7 linked regions of the Homo sapiens genome follow. The protein of the gene in region 1 interacts with the protein of each later gene in a pairwise test. Each region holds a gene or a part of one and is shown in the gene's direction. Other genes may lie near its edges. The genes, in order: PKN1, GABPB1, CDR2, HSF2BP, CEP57, THAP3 and AKAP8L.

What was found.
Region 2: the proteins of PKN1 (region 1) and GABPB1 interact in binary tests that used the Homo sapiens proteins (3 or more experiments, as listed by UniProt).
Region 3: the proteins of PKN1 (region 1) and CDR2 interact in binary tests that used the Homo sapiens proteins (3 or more experiments, as listed by UniProt).
Region 4: the proteins of PKN1 (region 1) and HSF2BP interact in binary tests that used the Homo sapiens proteins (3 or more experiments, as listed by UniProt).
Region 5: the proteins of PKN1 (region 1) and CEP57 interact in binary tests that used the Homo sapiens proteins (3 or more experiments, as listed by UniProt).
Region 6: the proteins of PKN1 (region 1) and THAP3 interact in binary tests that used the Homo sapiens proteins (3 or more experiments, as listed by UniProt).
Region 7: the proteins of PKN1 (region 1) and AKAP8L interact in binary tests that used the Homo sapiens proteins (3 or more experiments, as listed by UniProt).

The regions. Positions count from the first base shown.
Region 1 is NC_000019.10:14,450,306-14,453,805, forward strand, and holds part of PKN1 (serine/threonine-protein kinase N1), read left to right. Parts: intron 1-12; coding exon 13-158; intron 159-590; coding exon 591-804; intron 805-1,523; coding exon 1,524-1,718; intron 1,719-3,500. UniProt on the Homo sapiens protein: PKC-related serine/threonine-protein kinase involved in various processes such as regulation of the intermediate filaments of the actin cytoskeleton, cell migration, tumor cell invasion and transcription regulation.
Region 2 is NC_000015.10:50,303,199-50,306,698, reverse strand, and holds part of GABPB1 (GA-binding protein subunit beta-1 isoform beta 2), read left to right. Parts: intron 1-2,565; coding exon 2,566-2,733; intron 2,734-3,500.
Region 3 is NC_000016.10:22,364,620-22,368,119, reverse strand, and holds part of CDR2 (cerebellar degeneration-related protein 2), read left to right. Parts: intron 1-3,105; coding exon 3,106-3,218; intron 3,219-3,500.
Region 4 is NC_000021.9:43,610,989-43,614,488, reverse strand, and holds part of HSF2BP (heat shock factor 2-binding protein), read left to right. Parts: intron 1-541; coding exon 542-659; intron 660-3,500. UniProt on the Homo sapiens protein: Meiotic recombination factor component of recombination bridges involved in meiotic double-strand break repair.
Region 5 is NC_000011.10:95,828,498-95,830,845, forward strand, and holds part of CEP57 (centrosomal protein of 57 kDa), read left to right. Parts: intron 1-689; coding exon 690-834; intron 835-2,348. UniProt on the Homo sapiens protein: Centrosomal protein which may be required for microtubule attachment to centrosomes. May act by forming ring-like structures around microtubules. Mediates nuclear translocation and mitogenic activity of the internalized growth factor FGF2, but that of FGF1.
Region 6 is NC_000001.11:6,627,868-6,630,964, forward strand, and holds part of THAP3 (THAP domain-containing protein 3), read left to right. Parts: intron 1-631; coding exon 632-824; intron 825-1,775; coding exon of another isoform or gene 1,776-1,857; intron 1,858-2,420; coding exon 2,421-2,486; intron 2,487-3,097. UniProt on the Homo sapiens protein: Component of a THAP1/THAP3-HCFC1-OGT complex that is required for the regulation of the transcriptional activity of RRM1.
Region 7 is NC_000019.10:15,384,489-15,387,988, reverse strand, and holds part of AKAP8L (A-kinase anchor protein 8-like), read left to right. Parts: intron 1-3,500. UniProt on the Homo sapiens protein: Could play a role in constitutive transport element (CTE)-mediated gene expression by association with DHX9. Increases CTE-dependent nuclear unspliced mRNA export.

The DNA.
Region 1 (3,500 bases):
CCACGCTCACAGGGAGTCCTGACCTGGGGGCTGTGGAGCTGCGCATCGAAGAGCTGCGGCACCACTTCCGAGTGGAGCACGCGGTGGCCGAGGGTGCCAAGAACGTACTGCGCCTGCTCAGCGCTGCCAAGGCCCCGGACCGCAAGGCAGTCAGCGAGGTGAGGGGCGGAGCTTTCATTAGAGGCGGGGCTTCAGCAAGGGGCGGTGCTTCAGCAAGCGGCGGGGAGTTCACCAGGAACACCCACGGTGAGGGGTGGAGCCTCAAAGGGGGTGGGACCTTCATAAGGGGTGGGGCCTCAGCCAGGGTAGACTACTGTGAGGGGCAGGGCATCAGGCAGGAACAGTGCAACTGTGAGGGGCGGGGCCTCAGCGAGGGGGCATGGTTTCAGGCAGGAATGGCCCTCGGTGAGGGGAGGGGCCTCTCCAAGGGGCGGGGCCTGGTTTTCCCAGAGGTGGGACCAAGTTGGTTTGAGGTTTAGCCCTCTAGGGAGGAGCTCAGTGTGAGACTCAGCCTGGGGGTGGGGCCTAGGCCTGCACTTGGGAAGGGGCAAGCCTGGTCCCGCCCCCAGCCCCCACACTTCCCACCACAGGCCCAGGAGAAATTAACAGAATCCAACCAGAAGCTGGGGCTGCTGCGGGAGGCTCTGGAGCGGAGACTTGGGGAGCTGCCCGCCGACCACCCCAAGGGGCGGCTGCTGCGAGAAGAGCTCGCTGCGGCCTCCTCCGCTGCCTTCAGCACCCGCCTGGCCGGGCCCTTTCCCGCCACGCACTACAGCACCCTGTGCAAGCCCGCGCCGCTCACAGGTGGGTCTGAGACCCTACCCCACCCCTGCAGCCCTGGGCCTCCGACTCCTCTCATTTCCCCATTCCTGTGACCCCCGACTTCAATCTCCGCTCTCCCCAACCCTGGACTCCCATTCCACCACTGTCTCCTCCCCTCCTTTGCCCTCTGATTCTGGGCTCTTGCCCACCCCCCCCACACCTCAGTTTCTCCATCTCTCTTCACCTGGCCCAGTATTTTTCTCCCAGCCCTTGTTCCCCAGCCCCACCTCGGCCTCACAACGCTCAGCCATGAGCCTCCTACCCGCCTGCTGCAGACCAGCCAGCCCCACCTTCCACAGACCCCTCAGCCATCTACCCCTCCAGACCAGCCCCACCGTAGACCCCTAGCCCATCTTAGACCTCAGATTGTCCACCGAGTCCTCCCCTAGAACCCCTAGTCCTACCCTGTTCCTGCTTGCCTGGGCCTACGGCCTGTACCCTGAGCCTACGGCCTGTACCCTGAGCCTCTCTTCTGCCCCTAAACTCCCGCATCTGAGCCCCTCCTGGAAGGACTGCTTCTCTCATATTCTCCTATCCCAGCACGGACATCCCGGCCTCATGCCCCATGCTCCATTCTGGTTGTCCCTCACTGGCTCCCACTTGTACCATGGCTGCGTCTGGATGTGTCCCCTCCCCGCTGTGGTCCCCTCCGCTCAGCCTGCCCCAGAAGTGGCCCCCTGCTGAGCTTTCCCCTCCTGCAGGGACCCTGGAGGTACGAGTGGTGGGCTGCAGAGACCTCCCAGAGACCATCCCGTGGAACCCTACCCCCTCAATGGGGGGACCTGGGACCCCAGACAGCCGCCCCCCCTTCCTGAGCCGCCCAGCCCGGGGCCTTTACAGCCGAAGCGGAAGCCTCAGTGGCCGGAGCAGCCTCAAAGCAGAAGCCGAGAACACCAGTGAGTGGGCATCGTGGGCCCTGAGAAACGAGGTGGCATTGGGGACCTGGAATGCCCCATATTTGTAAACCTTTAAAAAATAAGCCAGGGGTCGGGTGTGGTGGCTCACACATGTAATCCCAGCACTTTGGGAAGCCAAGGTGGACGGATCACTTGAGGTCAGGAATTTGAGACCAGCCTGGCCAACATGGTGAAACACTGTCTCTACTTAAAAATACAACTTAGCTGGGCATGGTGGTGCACACCTGTAATCCCAGCTGTTTGGGAGGCTTAGGCAGGAGAATTACTTGAACCCGGGAGGTGGAAATTGCAGTGAGCCATGATCACGCCATTGCCCTCCAGCCTGGGTGACAGAGTGAGACTTTGCCTCAAAAGAGAACGAAAACAACAACAAAAACAAAAAAACAGGCCAGGTGCAGCAGCTCATGCCTGTAATCCCAGCACTTTGGGAGGCTGAGACAGGAGGATCACTTGAGGCCAGGAGTTTGAGACCAGCCTGGGCAACATAGCAAGACCCTGTCTCTACAAAAAATAAAATGTAAAAATTAGCCAGATGTGGTGGCCCACACCTGTAGTCCTAGCTGTTCTAGAGGTGGGAGGATCACTTGAGCCCAGTGAGCTATCATTGAGCCATTTCACTCTAGCCTAGATGACAGAGAGACCCTGTCTCTAAATTAAAAAAAAAGAAAAAAAACTTCAAGTTTATTTAGATTAAAAAAAAGGCTGGGCGTGGTGGCTCACGCCTGTAATCCCAGCACTTGGGGAGGCCGAGGCGGGTGGATCACGAGGTCAGGAGTTCAAGACCAGCCTGGCCAGCATGGTGAAACCCCATCTCTACAAAAAATACAAAAAAATTAGCCAGGCGTGGCGGCGCGTGCCTGTAATCCCAGCTACTCGGGAGGCTGAGGCAGAGAATTGCTTGAACCCAGGAGGCGGAGGTTGCAGTGAGCCGCGATTGTGCCACCGTACTCCAGCCTGTGCAACAGAGCAAGACTCCATCTCAAAATAATAATAATAATAATAAATAAATAAAACAAATTTAAAAAGAAAGGAAAACCAAACAAGAAACCAATATATCATATTCATTAGGATGACTAATACTATTTTAAAAACCCAACAAAACAAACAGAAAATAAGTGTTGGTGAGGATGTGGAGAGAAATCAGAACCTTTGTGCACTGTTGGTGGGAATGTAAAATGGTGCAGCCCTATGGAAAATATATTGGCATGGCCGGGTGCAGTGGCTCACACCTGTAATCCCAGCACTTTGGGAGGCTGAGGGGGCCAGATCACCTGAGGTCAGGAGTTCGAGACCAGCCTGGCTATCATGGCAAAACCCCGTCTCTACTAAAAATACAAAAATTAGCTGGGCATGGTGGTGTGTGTCTGTAATCCCAGCTACTCAGAAGGCTGAGGCAGGAGAATCGCTTGAACCCAGGAGGCAGAAGTTGCAGTGAGCTTAGATCGAGCCACTGCACTCCAGCCTGGGCAACAGAGCGAGACTCTGTCTGAAAGAAAGAGAGAGAGAGGGAGGGAGGGAGGGAGGAAGGAATATTGGCAGTTCCTGAAACAAGTAAAAACAGAGTAAGCAGTCCAGGCGCAATGGCTCACACCTGTAATTCCACCACTTTGGGAGGTCAAGGTAGGTGGATCACCTGAGGTCAGAAGTTCAAGACCAGCCTGGCCATCATGGTGAAACCCCATTTCTACTAAAAATACAAAAGTTAACCGGGCTTGGTGGTGGTGCACGCCTGTAGTCCCAGCTACTCTGGAGGCTGAGGCA
Region 2 (3,500 bases), on another chromosome or scaffold:
TACCTCTGGGGCTGGGGGAGGGGCTTGTGATCAGGGAGTGGCATGTGGGAAGATTTTTTTTTTTTTTTTTTTGAGACAGAGTTTCGCTCTGTTGCCCAGGCTGGAGTGCAGTGGCATGATCTTGGCTCACTGAAGCCTCTGCCTCCCGGGTTCAAGTGATTCTCCTGCCTCAGGCACCGAAGTAGCTGGGATAACAGGCGCCCACCCTCACACCCAGCTAATTTTTTATTTTTAGTAGATGAGGTTTCACCATGTTGGCCAGGCTGGTCTCGAACTCCTGACCTCAGGCAATCCACCTGCCTTGGCCACCCAAAGTGTTGGGATTACAGGCGTGAGCCACTGCGCCTGGCCAGATTTTAAATTACTGGCAGTGTTTTATTTCTAGACTATGGTGTTGATTCACAGGTGTTTGCCTTAAACTACATATATTGGCTGAGCACAGTGGCTTACGCTTGTAATCCCAGCACTTTGGGAGACTGAGGTGGCAGATTATTTGAGGCCAGAAGTTCAAGACCAGCATGGGCAACATAGACCCCATCTCAAACAAAAAGAAAAAAATTAGTCAGGCATGGTGGCTCAGCCTGTAGTCCTAGCTACTCTGGAGGCTGAGATGGGAGGATTGCTTGAGCCTAGGAGTTAGAGGTTACAGTGAGCTACGATAGCTCCACTGCATTCTAGCCTGGGCGACAGAGCAAGAAGCTGACTCTAAAAAAATGAATAAAAAAAAACCCAAAAAGCTACAAAAACTACATGGCCAGGTGTGGTGGCTCATATCCATAATCCCAGCACTTCGGGAGGCTGAGGGAGGAGGATCGCTTGAGCTCAGAAGTTTGAAGGTACAGTGAGCTGTGATCACCCCATTGGACTCCAGCCTGAGTGACAGAGTGAGACCCTGTCTCAGAAAAAAACAAAAAACCCTGCATATATGTATATATATTTTGTGTCAATAACCAAGAAGGGAAAGTCTCAGAAGACAAAAATAAAAAAGTAGATCCTAATGTCAAACTGAGCAAAGCTCCTGGTTGCTAAATGGGCTGTTGAGATATTTTCATTAAATACTGAAATTTAAGAGTATAGAAAAGGCTAGTTAAAGAAAAATTGACAAAGCATGGAGAAAGAAAGGATTGTTTAAGGATCTTCTTTGATCTGCTGGGATGACCTTCTCTTAAAAATGTAAGGTTTAGCTGGGTTTGTTGGTGTGTGCCTGTAGTCCCAGCTACTCTGGAGGCTGAGGTGGACAGATTGCTTGAGCCCAGCAGTTCAAAGCTGTAGTGTGTGATAATTGTACCTATGAATATCCATTGCACCCCAGCCTGGGCAACACAGTGAGGCCCTGTCTCTAATTAAACAAACAACAATTAAACAAACAAACAAACAAAAAATATATCTATCTCTCTATCTATAGATAGATAGATAGAGAGATAGGACTAAGGACCTTTATACATATATCTCACTTAATCTCTTCATAACATAATAAACTGTTTATATGTGTAAATTTCCTTAGTCCAAATATCTTAGTTCTTTGGAATATCAAGTGATGTGGTAATCAGAGGGTTATAGGGATTTTCTGTGCCTTTAAATGCATGTGATAGAACTTAATCTTCCTTCCCTCACATTTTAGTACTCCCTCTGTGTATTGTGGATGTCAATTTAATGACTAGACCACATGGAACCAATTTCAGGAGAATTGGGCTCTGTTTTGGTTTTGTCCTGATTCAACTTTGGCAAATGCACCTAAGATTTTTCCTTTGAAAAAAATCCCTTTAAAAAGATCACTGAGATGTTTCAATACGTGAATTTTTTAAGACCTACAAAACAATTTTGATCCACTTAAAGTAAAAATGTACACTGTTACATTTATTTGAGATGAATTTTACAGACGAAGTTAACTTAGCAAGTTTTGTGTGATTGGTATGAGGAATACATTCTAATACACAGAAAAATTTCTCAAACTCTATCTCTGATTTCTTTTTTTTTTTTTTTTCTTTAGACCAAAATCTCGCTGTGTCACCCAGGCTGGAGTGCAGTGGCGCGATCTCGGCTCACTGCAACCTCTGCCTCCTGGGTTCAAGCGATTCTCCTGCCTTAGCCTCCTGAGTAGCTGGGATTACAGGCACATGCCACCACGCCTGGCTAATTTCTGTATTTTTAGTAGAGATGGGGTTTCACCATGTTGGCCAGGGTGGTCTTGAATTCCTGACCTCAAGTGATCCACCCGCCTTGGCTTCCCAAAGTGCTGGGATTACAGGCGTGAGCCACCACGTTCGGCCTCTATATCTTAATTTCTAATGAAATTAATTTTGTTCAGGCAGTTTATCTGATAAAAAATAATGAAGAAAGAAAGTTTGAATTAAAGGAAATACTGGATTTTCTTCTTCATTGAGAGTGTTTGGGAATTCTTCAAGATGTCTATGAAGAGGATGTGATAAGCATGAATCTAGGCATTTCTTTTGAGTTTTGAGTTGCTATGTAAACAGATAATGTAAAGAAAATCTGTTTACTATATAAACAGAAGTGTAGTAACAATAATGTAAATGTGGATTTTTTTTTTTTTCTGTGGTACAGCTGGGAACTTCTCCACTTCATCTAGCAGCACAGTATGGTCATTATTCCACCACAGAGGTACTGCTGCGAGCTGGTGTGAGCAGAGATGCCAGAACCAAAGTGGACCGAACACCATTACATATGGCAGCTTCTGAGGGCCATGCCAGCATAGTAGAGGTTTTACTTAAGGTATGTGTTCTCTTTTTGCACTTTGCTTTTAAAATACTTTACGGTTTTATAAGAAGGAGAGGGAACTAGTTTTTGTTAAATGCCTACTTAGTATTTTATCTATAGTATTTCATTTTTTGTGTGTATAAGCCCATTAAATGAAAATTGTCTTATAGCTTTCATTTCATGAGGGACAAAACTTCATTTAGGTATATTCTTAGTTAAATCAGCTAATTGATTTCTTGGACCTTGGTCTATCTTATGATGAGGGACTACAGCATTTTTTCTTTTTGTTTTTTTTTTTTTTTTGAGACAGAATCTCTGTCACCCAGGCTGCAGTGCAGTGGCACGATCTCAGCTCACTGCAACCTCCACCTCCTGGGTTCAAGTGATTCTCCTGCCTCAGCCTCCCGAGTAGCTGGGACTACAGGCGCCCACCACCATGCCCAGCTAATTTTTGTATTTTTAGTAGAGATGGGGTTTCACCATATTGGCTTGACTGGTCTCGAACTCCTGACCTTGTGATCCGCCTGCCTTGGGCTCCCAAAGTGCTGGGATTACAGGTGTGAGCCACCATGTCCGGCCCTTAATTTTTTGTATTGTAGAGATGGGGTTTTGCCATATTGCCCAGGCTAGTTTCAAACCCCTGAGCTCAGCTGATCCAACCGCCTCGGCCTCCCAAAGTGCTGGGATTACAGGCGTGAGCCACTGCACCTGGCCTGGAACATCTATTTAACATATACATATAAATAATTGACTACATTATTTGTTCTTGCTTTAAAGCACAG
Region 3 (3,500 bases), on another chromosome or scaffold:
TTAATGGAAGTCTTTATTTTTTATTTTTTTATTTTTGAGACAGGGCCTCACTGTATTTTTGGTAGAGATGTAATTTCACCATGTTGCCCTGGCTGGTCTCGAACTTCTGAGCTCAAGCAGTCCATCTGGTTCACCCTCCCAAAATGCTGGGATTATAGGCATGACCCACTGCACCTGGCCTCTAAAGTCTTAATGAATGTAATGACTAATAGACATTGTTAGTTTTGAAATCACAAGAGAATGTATTTTAGCACCTATCTACCAACAGTATACTGTTTTATTTTAAATGGGTGTAAAATGTTTTTAAATGATCTGGAGTTGGGTGTGGTAGGTTTTGCTGCTTTTTCCAGAGTGAAAACTAACCAAGTAGAATACTAATTATGCACTTGAGTGGACATTACAACAACTAATGCTGTTGTTACCATTTACTCAATGCTAAGTTTTACTATGAGTAGTGGTGGATAGCCATTAAGCCTTATTTGTCAACCTCTAAAAATTAAGTTTAAAAATCATTATGTAGTGAGTTTCCTTGTTTTTATGATAAATTTTTTTCATAATACTTTTATGACAATAACTGAGGCTACTTTCCATCATACCTAGAATAAAATTTAAACTTTACCTACCATGGGCTATAAAATCCTATATGATCTGATCCCTCATGCTTCTATCATACTGGCTGCTTGTCAGGTTGTAGAATATGCCAAATTCATGGCAAGTTCTTCATCCTTCAAGCTTCAGCTAAAAGGTCTTGTCAGACCTTCCTTATGACCTCCCTTTCTAAATTGGGCCCTAGGCTGGGCACAGTGGCTCATGCCTGTAATCCCAACATTTTGGGAGGCTGATGTGGGAGGATGTGTTGAGGCCAGAAGTTTGAGATCATCCTGGGCAGCATTGTAAGACCCTGTCTCTACAATAAATCAGTAAGTAAGTAAGCTGGGTTTGGTAGTGCATGCCTGTAGTCCCAGCTGTTTGGCAGGCTGAGGCAGGAAGATCACTTGAGCCCAGGAATCCAAGGCTACAGTCAGCCATGAGTGCACCACTGCACTCCAGCATGGCAACAGAGCGAGACCGTGCCTAATAAAGAGACAGAAAAAGAAAGCCCTTTGTTCATTATCACCAAATCCAGGTTTTTCTCCCCCGCTTTATCTTTTAGACTTTATATTGAATTGGTCAACAAATCCTTTAGCTTTACTTTCAAAACATGTCAGAATTCTGCCCCTCCTCTCCCATCTTCATCTCTGCCACCCTGGTCCAAGCCACCATCATCTCTCACCCAGACGATTGCAGTATCTTTCTGTCACTCTGCTCCCACCTTTGTCCCATTCACCCTGTATAACAGCAGCCGGAGTGATCCTGTTAAACCTCCATTGGATTCCTTCATTTGGAGTAAAGGCCAAACTCTTGACCTCTTTAGTTAGGCCCTCCGCAAACTGGCCATCTTGGAGCCCCTCTGATTTGAGTCTTCCCCCTCCCCTCCCTGCCCAATACATTCTGCTCCACCCTCCTCAGCCTCCTTAATGACTCAGTCATGCTTCCTCCCAGGTGCTTTGCACTTGCCTTGCCTCTGCCTGGAGTGCTGTTTCCCTGATGGATACACATGGGTCACTTATTCTGTTCCTTCACACATTGATTCTAATGTGGCCCTGGTCACATGTTCTTAAATTTCAGCCTCCCACATCCACACTCCTCCTGTACTTCTTCCTTGCTTTATTTTTTTCTCTTTAGCATTTATCGCTATCAAGTTTTATTGTGCTGTTTCTCCCAGTAGAATATAAGCTCCATGAGGGCAGGGATATTTTTTTAATGTGAGTTCCTTATGGCTCCTGGGCACCATCCCAGTGCCTAGAATAGTGTCTGATATTATTGAGTATATGCATGCATGCATGAATACTGTTTATCACAGTATGTGAGTTTAGTTACTCATTTGTCTGGCTTCCTCCACTAATCTGGGAATGTCAGCAAAGCAGGACTTCATTTTATTCACTGTTCTATAGCTAATGCTTAGCATAGTGCCTGGCAACAAAAACATTCATTTGTGAATCAATGACTATTAATAGTACTTTGCGTGCGTATTGCAACTTAGTTTGTAAAGTACTCCTTTATGTATTATTTCATTTGATTTTCACAATCTTATATTGATAAGACAGTCATCTCTCTAAACAAGAATACTAACTATAGGGGCCTTAAAGTCACCATATTGAAAGTGTTCTGGTAAATGATAGAACTGGGCCTGAGACTTACCTGCCCAGAGTGCAGTGCATTTCCCACTGTATCAAAGGACTGCTCCATAAGATTTACTATGCAAAGAAGTATTTCAATGACGTATGTTACAACTAGTGTCCTTTCTTATATTGTTAACTAAATTTTCATTTCTGGGAGTTGAGTATAATATAAACAAATCCTGTTTTATGGGCATTATACCTAAGAATAGAGAGAGTTGAAAAATGAGGTTTAAAATAAAATATGGTTCTGTGCTAAATGGAAGTATGAGCTACTGACATGTAATTACCTCAAAAACCACATTTCTGTTTTGCTTTTCTAGTTGCTCATCTTACAGAAGGACACGAAGAGAAGTAGAGTGACCTGGGGCAGTGTTCTTAATGCTGATGTATTTTTCCTTTTCTTGACTTAATAAATTTTAGTCCCCTTAGGAGTCCAGGATATATGACAATAAACTTTAACAGTTGTATTCACAGCAGGCAAATTCATGGGAACTTTAAAGATTTTTGAAAGCTCCACCTATACCTTGGCTCAAGGGTCCATTCAAAAAAGTAGACTGTCAGGATATGAATACATTCATTGTACTAGCAAATAGGATTTTAGAAGTAACACTGCGGAATGATCATTCCTGAACAAATAACTGCATCTCCATAAAGTAGATGACCATTTTTCACTTCTTACAAGTATGGGTACATAAGAGAATACATTACCTGCTGGAGGCGTCAGTTTAACTGAATTTTAAGTAGAACTCGGGTTTCCTTCTGTGCCACTCCACCTTCCATTGGGATGTGACTTAAACTACATGTTCTTTTTTGAAGGACTGGGTTATATAAATTGTTGATGTGAGATCATTTGTATTATTCTAAGATTCATTTGTTGTGCTAGATCTTCAACTTGCTGCTGAGCTTGGGAAGACATTACTGGATCGGAACACAGAGTTGGAGGACTCTGTTCAGCAGATGTATACAACCAATCAGGAGCAGTTACAGGAAATTGAGGTAATTCACTTGGCAGGAGAGTTACACTTTTGACACTTCGATGTGTTGCTGTTATGCCAATCACATACTGGTAAAAAAGCACTTGCAATTAGATGCAGCATTTTATTTTTTAACACAAACTTTTTTGAGAATGAGAACCGCCTCCCGAGTAGCTGGGATTACAGGCGCCTGCCACCACGCCTGGCTAATTTTTGTATTTTTGGTAGAGATGGGGTTTCACTGTGTTAGCCAGGCTGGTCTCGAACTCCTGTCCTCAGATGATCCACCTGCCTTGGCCTCCCA
Region 4 (3,500 bases), on another chromosome or scaffold:
TCTGTTTCACTCTTTCGGCGCTTGCTAATCACACTGCACATTACTTGATATTTCAGTAACTCTTGTGGTTGTCAGTGATTCTTTCTGAGCTGTCATTTTTGTTGATAATTTTTTTTTTTTTTTTTTGAGACAGGGCTTTGCTCTGTCACCCAGGCTGGAGTGCAGTGTCATGATCATGGCTCACTGCAGCCTCTACCTCCTAGGCTCAAGCAATCCTTCTGCCTCTACCTCCTGAATAGCTAGGACTACAGGTGCACACACCGTGCCCGGCTAATTTTTAAATTTTTTGTAGAGATAGGGTCTTGCTGTGTTGCCCAGGCTGGTCTTGAACTTGTGGCCTCAAGCAGTCCTCCCACCTCAGTCTCTCAAAATGTTGGGATTACAGGTGTGAACAACCATGCCTAGCAATTTCATTTATAAATGCCTCATTTTCAGCTGTGTTTTCATTAGGTCTTTTAGGAGAAAATACTCTGTTCTGCACAAAATTGTCTAGGTTCTGAGTCATAATGATCTTGATGTTTTGTTTCATTTTCTGTTGCAGATGTTGCTGCTATAGCATGTGGTCGTGAATTCTTGGTTAATTCAAGCCGGGTGCTCTTGGACACCATATTGCAGCTTCTGGGAGACTTGAAGCCAGGACAGTGTACCAAACTCAAAGTGTATGGTGGATAATGTTAAAAAGTTAATTCTATTTACATATTAATTAGACTGTGCTGATTGGGCCTCTCTTCAAGTAAACACAGTTAATTTTGGTGGTAGTTTTAAAAACTAGAAGAAATAAATTCCTGGAGAAGTTAAGGGCGTGCACTGTCTCTTAAATAGCATTTTAGAAAATAAATTTAAGGAAGGAATGTTCTCACCTTAGAGCAATCAGTGAGTCCCAGTATTATCACATGGTACTTCATGGGTATGTCAAAATGAATTTAAATAGGTATCTGTCTTCCAGCTACTAAAATCTGTATTTGTTTTCTATTTTTATGTAACAAATTATCACCAACTTGGTGGCTAAAACAACACCATTTATTATTTCATAGTTTGGCAAGTCAGAAGTCTGAGTGGGTTTGAGAGGTTCTCTGCATAGGTCAAAAGTGAGGTGTTTTCCAGGGTGGGATCTTTTCAGAGAATCTAGGGGAGGAATCTGCTTCTGGGCACTTTGAAGTGGCTGGTAGAGTCCAGTGTCTTGGTTTCTAGGAGCGAGTTCCCTGTTTCCCAGCTGGCTGGTCAGCTGTGGGTCAGCTGCTGAGGCAGCTTGCATTGCTTCTCACAGGGACCCCATCTTCAAGCCACAGTCGCTCATTGAATCCTTCCCACGTTTCCAGTCTCTGAGACTTCCTCTTCTGCTACCAGCAAGATGAAACTCTCTCTGCTTTTATTCTTTTGTTAAAAAGTTTACTTCAAGAAGGCAAAAACTCTGCTTCTTATAGATTTGTGTGTTTAGATGAGGCATACCTGGATAAACTCCTTTTGATTAACTCTTGAGTCAGCTGGTTAGTAACCTTAATTACATCTACAGAATCCTCTTTTCCAGGCAATGACATAATCAGCGTGTGATAATTTATAGTCCCAGAGATTAGGGCAGGAAATCTTGGGGAGAGGGGCAGTGTAGGATTCTGCCACTCACACTGTTCGTTCTGAGTGTTGCCTTTGACTTCTTAGAGCATCTTTATTTTTTAATTATTTTTTTAAAGAGACCGAGTCTCTACAGACCTTGCCTAGGCTGGCCTCAAACTCCTAGGCGTTCAAATAATCCTTCCACCTCAGCCTCCTGAGTAGCTGGGACTACAGGCATGTGCCACCATCCCCTGCTGTGGAGCACTTTTTTTTTTTTTTTTTTTTTTGAGACGGAGTCTTGCTCTGTCACCCGGGCTGGAGTGCAGTGGCGTGATCTCGGCTCACTGCAAGCTCCGCCTCCCGGGTTCACACCATTCTCCTGCCTCAGCCTTCCAAGTAGCTGGGACTACAGGCGCCCGCCACCACGCCCAGCTAATTTTTTGTATTTTTAGTAGAGACGGGGTTTCACCGTGTTAGCCAGGATGGTCTCAATCTCCTGACCTCGTGATCCACCCGCCTTGGCCTCCCAAAGTGCTGGGATTACAGGCGTGAGCCCCTGCGCCCGGCCTAGCACTTTTAAAAAGTAAGAGCTTCTGTAAAGTCTGTGCCAGGTGCTTCCAACACCTGTGTCATCCTGGCCTCGGTGTCTCTTGATTGTTTTTTCCCATGAGAGTTGAGATTTTCCTGTTTCTTCATATGCCAAGTAATTTTGGATTTATCCTGGACATTTACGTGATCACTGGTCTTGTTTAAATCCTTGGGAAATGCTGGTGTTTATATTTTCACAGGCAGTCAACCCCTTTGGGTCAGATTCCAGCCAGCCTTTTCTCTGTTTGGTTTCAGTGTGTCGTCCTGTTTTCAGAGTCTTTACAGTGCTATTGGAACTGCCCCTCGTGAGTGCCGCCCAGTGGCCAGTCTGAGACCTGGGTGGTCTGGATCTTAGGTTCAGAGTCTTTCAGATACTGTTTATGATCAGATCCACACAGGCACAACTTGGGATGAGGCCAGGAATTTATAAACAACTTTTTGGGGTCACTTTTCTGAGCTGTTAACTCTCTGGGTACACTTTAGTTACCTGGGACTGCCTTTTTCAGTCCCCCACCTGGAATGCTGGGGCTTCATATACCCTGCTGTGTCCAAGTGCCTGCAACTCTGCCCTCATCCCGCCCTGCGGCAGGAGTTGAGAAGCTCTTAGAGCTTTCAGGTGTAAGGAAAAAATTCCTTTCCCCCAGAGTTTGAGTTACCTGGGGGATGTCCCCACTGCTACCGTGCTTGGTTGCTGGCAGGAGACCCCTTTCCCACTCCTTGAGCCTCACTAGAGACCTTCTCCTGGTGCTCTCTGTGTGGCTCAGGGCTACTTTTGGGTTTTGGAGCTCCCTCGAGTCCAGGCCAGGGACACTAAAGGAAAAAGTGGTAAACTCTCTGCTGGTTTAGTGGTTCTTAAAATTTTGATCTTCTTCCCCTATCTGCCTGCTACTGTTTACTTTTCAGAGTCCTCAAATAGCTGCTTCATGTATTCTCTTTGGAATTTATAGCTGCATTCAGTGGAAGCGAGACTGGAGGGTGTGTTCAGGCCATCTTATCCAGAACCAAGCTTTCTAGTCCATTTTAATATTTTGTGCTAACAAATATCTATACATACATAATACATATAATACAGTGTAACATATATGCAAAAAAAATTTTTTTTTTGAGACAGAGTCTTGCTTTGTAACCCAGGCTGGAGCACAGTGGTATGAACATGGCTCACTGCAGCCTCGACCTCTTAGGCTTAAGTTATCCTCCCAGCTCAGCCTTCTGAGCAGCTGGGACCGTCAGTGCATGCCACCATGCCTGGCTAATTGTTAAATTTTAAAAATTTTTTTGTAGAGACGGGGTCTCTCCATGTTGCCCAGGCTGGCATAGATGGTTTTGTTTGGGGGTATAATTTTACAAATTGCTTGTGGATC
Region 5 (2,348 bases), on another chromosome or scaffold:
ATATGATACTAAAGTCTTACGGGACCACTGTTGTATATGTGGTCTGTTGTTTACTACATCATCATCTGGCACCTGACATCACATTCATTTTAGCTAAACTTAACTGATAAGACATGAGTGTTTGAAGAGCAAGATTCATCTGTAGACTTTACATATACAATACTCTTTTGGGGAAAATAAGAATATAAAGAATTAACCTTGAAATTAAGAACTCTTGCATTTCCCTCTAGTGCCTTTCTTGAACTTTTAAATTCATATTTTTAATTAAAAATTTCTTGATCTAGGCTAGGCATGGTGGCTCACACCTGTAATCCCAGCACTTTGGGAGGCTGAAGTGGGCATATCACATCCTGGCTAACAGGGTGAAAACCTGTCTGTACTAAAAATACAAAAAATTGGCCAGGCATGGTGGCAGGCGCCTGTAGTCCCAGCTACTCGGGAGGCTGAGGCAGGAGAATGGCGTGAACCCGGGAGGCAGAGCTTGCTGTGAGCCGAGATCATGTCACTGCACTCCAGCCTGGGCGACAGAGCAAGACTCCGTCTCAAAAAAAAAAAAAAAATTTATTGCTCTGTTCAAAAAATGGAGTCATTTTTTAAACACATGGAGCAGTAACCCATAATGAGGTATAATAGACCTAACCATGAAACACAGAAAACTTAACCATGTTCTACTTCTGCTTTGTATATAGTGATCACCAGCAGCTTGCAAAACTTATCCAGGAGTCGCCAACCGTTGAACTGAAAGACAAGTTGGAGTGTGAATTGGAGGCATTAGTGGGAAGGATGGAAGCAAAAGCCAACCAAATAACTAAAGTTCGAAAATACCAAGCCCAGGTAACTCAGTTTTCCTTCACTCAAGTTTCTAATGATTAAGAAAAAAAAAACACTTTAATTCAAATATTAAATGATGACACTAAGTGTATCATAGATAAATATCTACAGGAGATACTTCTTTACTGAAGACATTTGTTCATTGAGAATTGGTAAGTGGATTAAGAAAGAAGACACTTTTAGTCACTTAGCATATTCATCTAAGAAACATCTTTCAAATACTGAATATATTTAATATTCTTTATGAATAAGCTTTAACTTCTTTGATGAATTTAAATTGGAGTTTATCCAAGTAAGTTTTTTTAAAAGCACCTGCGAAATTCTGTTTCCAAAGGAATAAGTCATACATTAAATATGTGAAATATATTTATGTTGCTAATCATTTTATATCAGCCAACAATGTAGTACTACCAGATGCAGTGGTGACATCACACTCAAGGGTTTTCAACCAGAGAGAAACATGATTCATATATTTAAGAGATTACTGTAGTGACTAGGGGTAGGGTAATGGGATCAAGGCAGAGAGGCTGAGAGATCAGCTATAGATGTATCAGAGGTGGTCAGCAAGACAGTAGTTGGGTTTGGGCAGAGGTAAACAGATTTGAGGTATGTTTTGGAAGTAAAAAAAATATTGGGGTTACTTGCTGCTGGGTATCATGTAGAAGGAGAGGGAGTTAGGATGGTGATTCCACTGACTAAAATGGAGAAAGCTGAGAAGTTCAGAGAGCAGAACAGTTTTGTTGACTGTTGATTGGTAGCCATATGATAGACACACAGTGCCAAGTGCTCTGAGTATATCTTCTCATTTAATTTTCACAAAAGGCTTCTGAGGTGGGTATATTCTCATATTATAGATGAGGTAGATGCTAAGCCACATTTTCTGGGAAGTATGCATATATCCTCAGTGAAATTAAATAACTTGCCCAAGTACCAGCTTACTGGGAAATGGCAGAGCTGGGATGAAACTAGCCTTTTCAACTCTAAAACTTTGGCTGTTTTTTCAAAGTTCATGTATGAAAAAGAAATACAAGCAAATTATTCCTGTAGGAGTAAGGAGTAATGGTCTAATTTGTTGCTTATACTAATTAGACTTATTCTATTGGAACACCAACATGCCAGCATCAGTTTGGCTAAAGTAAAAATAAAGCTCCCGTATTTAAAATTATTCTAAAAATAATGGAACAAAAATAAAATTCTTTTCATAGTATTAATACATTACCAATTACATCTGTTCATCCATCTGGAAATTGCTTCTTTGCCTCCTCAGACTAGTTTCTAGAATATCTTTCTCCTCTTCTCCCATTTGTGAAAATCCTTCCCATTCTTCTTTTCTCTGTGTCTGATTTTTTGCCTCCTTCATGAGTCTTTCCTTCAACTCCCCTTGTTTCTCACTCGCCCTGTTCTGTACTTTGGCAATATTGCCTTAATTTAGGACAACCAGAATTTGTTTACTCATGTCTACTTGTTTGTGTATTGTTTTATATATATATAAGCATATATTTATTTATATTAATATT
Region 6 (3,097 bases), on another chromosome or scaffold:
TCTCACCTCTGTCTAGAGCCTCCAGGGACTCCCCAGCTGCTCAGGGCCCTGCGTCATGCAGTCCCCACTCCCTCTCGCTGTCTCAGCTGGACCTGCGTGAGTGGCCGTTCCTGCTGTCCCTTCTGAAGCCTGCGTCGCTTGTGCTGCCACTTCCTGCGGTCTGTGCTCAAACATCACCCCTTCAGCTGCCTCTCCTCACCACCCCAGGGCTTCCCTCTGTCTGTTCTCTGGAGCAGCTGTCATCCCCAGAAGACACCGTCCACATCTGTGTGGCTCATCACTGTGCCCCCGCTCCAGAATATCAGCTCTTGGGGGCCAGGACTGTCTCATTACCCCCCATCCCTAGCACGAAGAACAGGGCCCGGCTCCTGGTAGGCTCCTGGCAAATGTAGCATCGGAAGCAGCTCACTTGGGCTCTCTGGCCATGCTCGTGGTCTCGGGTTTCCTATTAAGAGTGCTTTAACAGCTGTGACAGAAGCTTCCAGAAATTAGATGTGATTTAATAAACCGAGAGGACTGAATGTCCACAGCTGTCCAGGGAAGTACTCTGTAGTGATGTGAAAATTCCGAATGACTCTGAGGCGCTGGGTCCAGCCTTGCTGGGCCTCACACCCCGTGCCTCTGCCCTTAGGTTTCCGTTCAGCCGCCCGGAGCTGCTGAAGGAATGGGTGCTGAACATCGGCCGGGGCAACTTCAAGCCCAAGCAGCACACGGTCATCTGCTCCGAGCACTTCCGGCCAGAGTGCTTCAGCGCCTTTGGAAACCGCAAGAACCTAAAGCACAATGCCGTGCCCACGGTGTTCGCCTTTCAGGACCCCACACAGGTAGGAGGGCACTGCACCTTCCGTCTGGTCACATCCAGCCTGCGTTGTTTACCAGCAGCTGGGGGCAGTGGGGGTGGCGGCATGTGTGGGAAAAGCCAAGGCCAAGAACTCCAGTGACAACAGCACTGTCACGCCTCTGGGGTCCACAGCCCTGTGGCCCTGCTGGCCATGACCTCGGCTTTAAGAGAAGTCATAAATTAAAGGCATTTTAAAAATGAATTATTCTATGGCTGGGTGCGGTGGCTCACGTCTGTAATCCCAGCACTTTGGGAGGCAGAGGTGGGTGGATCACCTGAGGTCAGGAATTCGATACCAGCCCAGCCAACATGTTGAAACCCCATTTCTACTAAAAATACAAAAATCAGCTGGGTGTGTTGGTGGGCACCTGTAATCCCAGCTACTTGGGAGGCTGAAGCAGGAGAATCTCTTGAACCGGGAGGCAGAGGTTGCAGTGAGCCAAGCTTGCCTTGGTGGAGGTGGGATGTGTGGGCCTGGCTCAGGAGAGGGCTCACAAAGAGTTGGATGCTGAAGCCTTGAGATCGCATGATAGGCCACAGGGGCACCCACGTGGAGTGGGCAGGCAGGGCAGTGGCGGGACAAGCCACAGGCCAGCAGCTCCCTGCATTGGTGGATTTATGGGGAGAGGAAAGGGATCCGTGAGTGGAGAGTGGAGCCGATGGGAAGAACAAAGCGGCCACGTAGCAAACACGCCCAGAGCGGCCGCCTGGGAGCCCCTGCCCCATCTGTCCTCCCCAGCACCCTTCCCAGATAGCCTCATGCAGTCTGCCTGAACCTCTTCAGGTTGGCAGTCCCTTCCTTCAGGAAGCCCTTCTGGACCCTCAAACCCCCTCTTGCCTCCGACCCCTTCCTGCCCCTCAGTCTTCCTGGCCCCTGTGGCCCCTGCTGTCCTTCCTGTTTCCCTCATTGGTTTTGTCTTCTCCCCTGGAACAGAATCTCCATGAGGGCAGGGGCTGCCTTCCCTGCTTCAGGCCCCACACCCAGGACGCTGCCTGGCACAGCCCAGGTGCTCGGGGTATGTGTCCATAGATGAACACTTTAATCACCTTCACGTATTTGTGATAACGTTTGTCCTGGAAAGATGACACTTGAGCCACTGGGAGTGGGGACGTTTGTCACTGTAGCCCTCGGTGCTTCCAGTGCCTGGTTGGTGGGGAGAAGCTGGGTACGGCCTCTGCCAGCTCTGCTTTGTGGGCCCCACCCCAGTGTGGCCCAGGGGCTGCAGGTTCTGGGTCAGTGGCACCTCGAGTGGTGAGCTGCGCTTCTGCTGCTTGCTGGCGGTCATGGGGCCAGGTGCCAGGCCCTGGGGTGACACATAGGAAGTAGATGGGTCCCTAGCTCTACAGGGACCTATTCAGGGCACTCTGACCATGATTTGAGGACATCTTTGGAGAAAGAGAAGCGCACCAAGCGGGCAGTGTGAGTTGGGCTGAGCTTCAGGTCAGTTTCATTTAGCAGCTGTTCGTTGACTGGGGCATGCAGTGGGCCGAGCAGCGGGGACAAGCATGATGCCCGAGGCCTGCCCCGAGCTCTGAGGGTTCTTGGGGTCTGCATCCACTCTGTGTGTGTCTCTTGTAGCAGGTGAGGGAGAACACAGACCCTGCCAGTGAGAGAGGAAATGCCAGCTCTTCTCAGAAAGAAAAGGTGAGTGCACCGGGCCAGGTACTTGAATGTTTAAATTATGCTGTGGGTTGAGACAGGGAGGTGGGATTTTCCCAGCAAGGCCGGCCCGCAGGGCTGTCGCCTTTCCTCATATGCCAGTTTGGATTCCCGGTTTTTCTGGAGGGAAGGCCCAAGCCTCTCAGCTTCCTTCTTTTCAATATCAAAGAATCTCAGTTGCTAGTAGGGATCGTGCCTGATTCCCTTTTTCTTTTCTTTTTTTTGAGACTGAGTCTCGCTCTGTCACCCAGTCTGGAGTGCAGTGGCATGATCTCGGCGCACTGCAACCTCTTCCAGGTTCAAGTGATTCTCTTGCCTCAGCCTCCCGAGTAGCTGGGATTACAGATGCCCGCTACCACGCCCGGCTAATTTTTGTGTTTTGAAATAGAGACGGGGTTTTACCACGTTGGCCAGGCTGGTCTCGAACTCCTGACCTCAGGTGATCCACCCACCTCTGCCTCACAAAGTGCTGGGATTATAGGTGTGAGCCACCGCGCCTGGGCCCCCACTTTTTTTTTTTTGTAGAGATAGCATCTTGCTATTTTACTCAGGCTGGTCTCAAACTACCGGGCTCAAGCCATCCTCCCACCTCAGTC
Region 7 (3,500 bases), 930 kb from region 1:
TTTTCCCCTCCCCTCCCCGCCCCCTCTCCCAGACAAGAGTCTTGCTCTGTTGCCCAGGCTGGAATGCAGTGGCGCGATCTTGGCTTGCTGCAACCTCCACCTCTCAGGTTCAAGCAATTCTCCTGCCTCAGCCTCCCGAGTAGCTGGGATTACAGGCATGTGCTACCACGCCCGGCTAATTTTTGTATTGTTAGTAGAGACGGGGTTTCACCATGTTGGCCAGGCTGGTCTCGAACTCTTGATCTTATGAGCCACCCACCTCAGCCTCACAAGGTGCTGGGATTACAGGCGTCAGCCACTATGCCAGGCCCAAGAGGGATGGTTTTTGAGGTGGTTGTTTGAGATTTATTCTGAACCCAGGGAGTCTGTTCTTAGCTATTTCACTGGTCCTTGTCCTCTTTGGTAACCTAGTTAGCCTATGGGTTAGCTAATATCACTGTCAAATCTACCGGTCCTTCTTTTTTATGGCTGTGTGGTGGGGGAAAAAAAAAAGGACAAAGCTATCAGTGTTTAACTCCAATAAATATTCAGAAAGAAAAAAAAAAGCTATCAATGTCCTTTTAATTTTTTTCCTCCCTAGTCTCCATTGTTTTTGAGAGAGGCCCTAGTCTTGCACTTCCCAACACTCTTGCCAGTGAAGTCAGTCAGTTCCTTTGAGATTGGGAGTTTACTGATTTAAGGCCGTGCTCTCACTGTGGGCAGAATCTCTGAGCCAAGGCTCTGGGGATGGAGACAATGGAGTACCTCTCTCTGAGTGACTCTGCCACTTTAGGAGAGACATGGGAGGAGGTACAGTAGGCTGTAGCCTCCGGTCTTGGTTTGCCTTTCCTGGCATGGGACCTCTGCTTTATGAACAAGCCATGGGTATGTGAGCCCTTATATTCTTAGTGTGCCATGCCCAGGGTCAAGCCTCCATTCCACGTGCGTGTGGCTGGGTAGAAGATAGGAACCGTTCTCTCTCAGCTATGCTTGTCTAGAACTTAGCCTCATCAGCAGGTAGCTGGGGGCGGGATGAGAGATACTGACATCCGGCTGGGTACAGTGGCTCACGCCTGTAATCCCAGCACTTTGGGAGGCCAAGGTGGGCAGATCACCTGAGGTCAGGAGTTCAAGACCAGCCTGGACAACATCGTGAAACCCCATCTTTACTAAAAATACAAAAATTAGCCGGGCTTGGTGGCGGGCACTTGTAATCCCAGCTACTCGGAAGGCTGAGGCAGGAGAATTGTTTGAACCCGGGAAGTAGAGGTTGCAGTGAGCCGATATCACGCCATTGCACTCCAGCCTGGGCAACCAAGAGTGAAACTCCAACTCAGAAAAATAGATGCTGACATTCTGTTCCTCCTGGGAAGATATCATACCCCTTAACTGAGATGATCTGGGTAGATGCGGGCAGACCTGTCTTCTTGGCTGTACTGTCTGGAGTGGAGTTTCCATCACACTAAGCTGGGGGAGGCAGGGATGCAATAGGTTGTGTTTCAGACATCACAACTCTTCATGGAACTGAGTTTTAGTAGCTTTTCCTCATTAAATCTTTCTCATAGGGCTGTATGTCCTTAGGAACATTTTCAGAGACTTTAAATGGTTGTTTTTTAATACTTTTCATCAGTTTCACTAGGGAGTGTTCCAGGGAACGCCTCAGACTGCTATGCTAGAGTCTGTCCTCTCAATATTTAGGAAGCTTCTTAAACCTTAATTCCAAAATTCTGATAAAGATGATACCAAAATGAAACTGTAGATTAGTTTACTATTATTAAAGATATGAAAGTGGGCTGGATTGGCCGGGCGCGGTGGCTCATGCCTGTAATCCCAGCACTTTGGGAGGCCGAGGCAGGCGGATCACGAGGTCAGGAGATCAAGACCATCCTGGCTAACACGGTGAAACCCCATCTCTACTAAAAATACAAAAAATTAGCCGGGCGTAGTGACGGGCGCCTGTAGTCCCAGCTACTCGAGAGGCTGAGGCAGGAGAATGGTGTGAACCCAGGAGGCGGAGGTTGCAGTGAGCCGAGATCGCGCCACTGCACTCCAGCCTGGGCAACAGAGTGAGACTCCTCAAAAAAAAAAAAAGAAAAAAAAGAAAGAAAGTTGGCTGGATATAGTGGCTTATACCTGTAATCCCAGCACTTGGGGAGACTGAGGTGGGAGGATCATTTGAGCCCAGGAGTTCAAGACCAGCCTGGGCAATATAGTGAGACACTGTGTCTATAAAATTAAAAATAAAAAAATTAGCCAGGTACTGGGGCCTGTGGTCCCAGCTACTTGGGAGGCTGAGGTGGGAGGATCACCTGAGCCCAGGAGGTTGAGGCTGCAATGAGCTGTGATCGTGCCACTGCATTCCAGCCGGGGCAACAGAGCAAGACTCTGTCTCAAAAAAATAAATAAAATGAAGTGCTAAATAAAATATTAGTAACTATCAATCTAGTAGTGATCCCTATGTATGATACATTATAAGTAAGGTTTGTTTCTGGAATGGAGGGATGGTTCCCTAAGAAATCTAGCAACAGTTGCCGGGCGCGGTGGCTCATGCCTGTAATCCCAGCACTTTGGGAGGCCGAGGTGGGTGGATCACGAGGTCAGGAGATCGAGACCATCCTGGCTAACACGGTGAAACCCCATCTCTACTAAAAATACAAAAAATTAGCCAGACGTGGTGGCGGGCGCCTGTAGTCCCAGCTACTCGGGAGGCTGAGGCAAGAGAATGGCATGAAAGGCCGGGCGCGGTGGCTCACGCCTGTAGTCCCAGCACTTTGGGAGGCCGAGGCGGGCGGATCACGAGGTCAGGAGATCGAGACCATCCCGGCTAAAACGGTGAAACCCCGTCTCTACTAAAAACACAAAAAATTAGCCGGGCGTGGTGGTGGGCGCCTGTAGTCCCAGCTACTTGGGAGGCTGAGGCAGGAGAATGGCGTGAACTCGGGAGGCGGAGCTTGCAGTGAGCCGAGATCCCGCCACTGCACTCCAGCCTGGGCAACAGAGCGAGACTCCGTCTCAAAAAAAAAAAAAAAGAGAATGGCATGAACCTGGGAGGCGGAGCTCGCAGTGAGCTGATATCGCGCCACTGCACTCCAGCCTGGGCGACAAAGCGAGACTCCGTCTCAAAAACAAAAACAAAAAATCTAGCAATATTATTGGTATAATGCAAACTCTCTTTATGTGCAAATAATGTGATTATGCTCTTAGAAAAGCTGAATGATCCCAGCAAAATGTTCTTAGAATTAATAGAATTTGGTAAGGGGATGGGATTCAAAATAGCGTACAAAAAGTCGTAGTGTTTCTCTATTCTAGTATTAACCAGTTAGAAATTTAAATGGAAAAAAAACTACTTAAAATAACCACACAATGTATGAAATAGCTAAGAATACAGATTTAAGAAGAAAGACTTGAGGGCCAGGCATGGTGGCTCATGCCTGTAATCCCAGCACTTTGGGGAGGCTGAGGCGGGTGGATTGCCTGAGGTCAGGAGTTTGAGACCAGCCTGGCCAACATAATGAAACCCT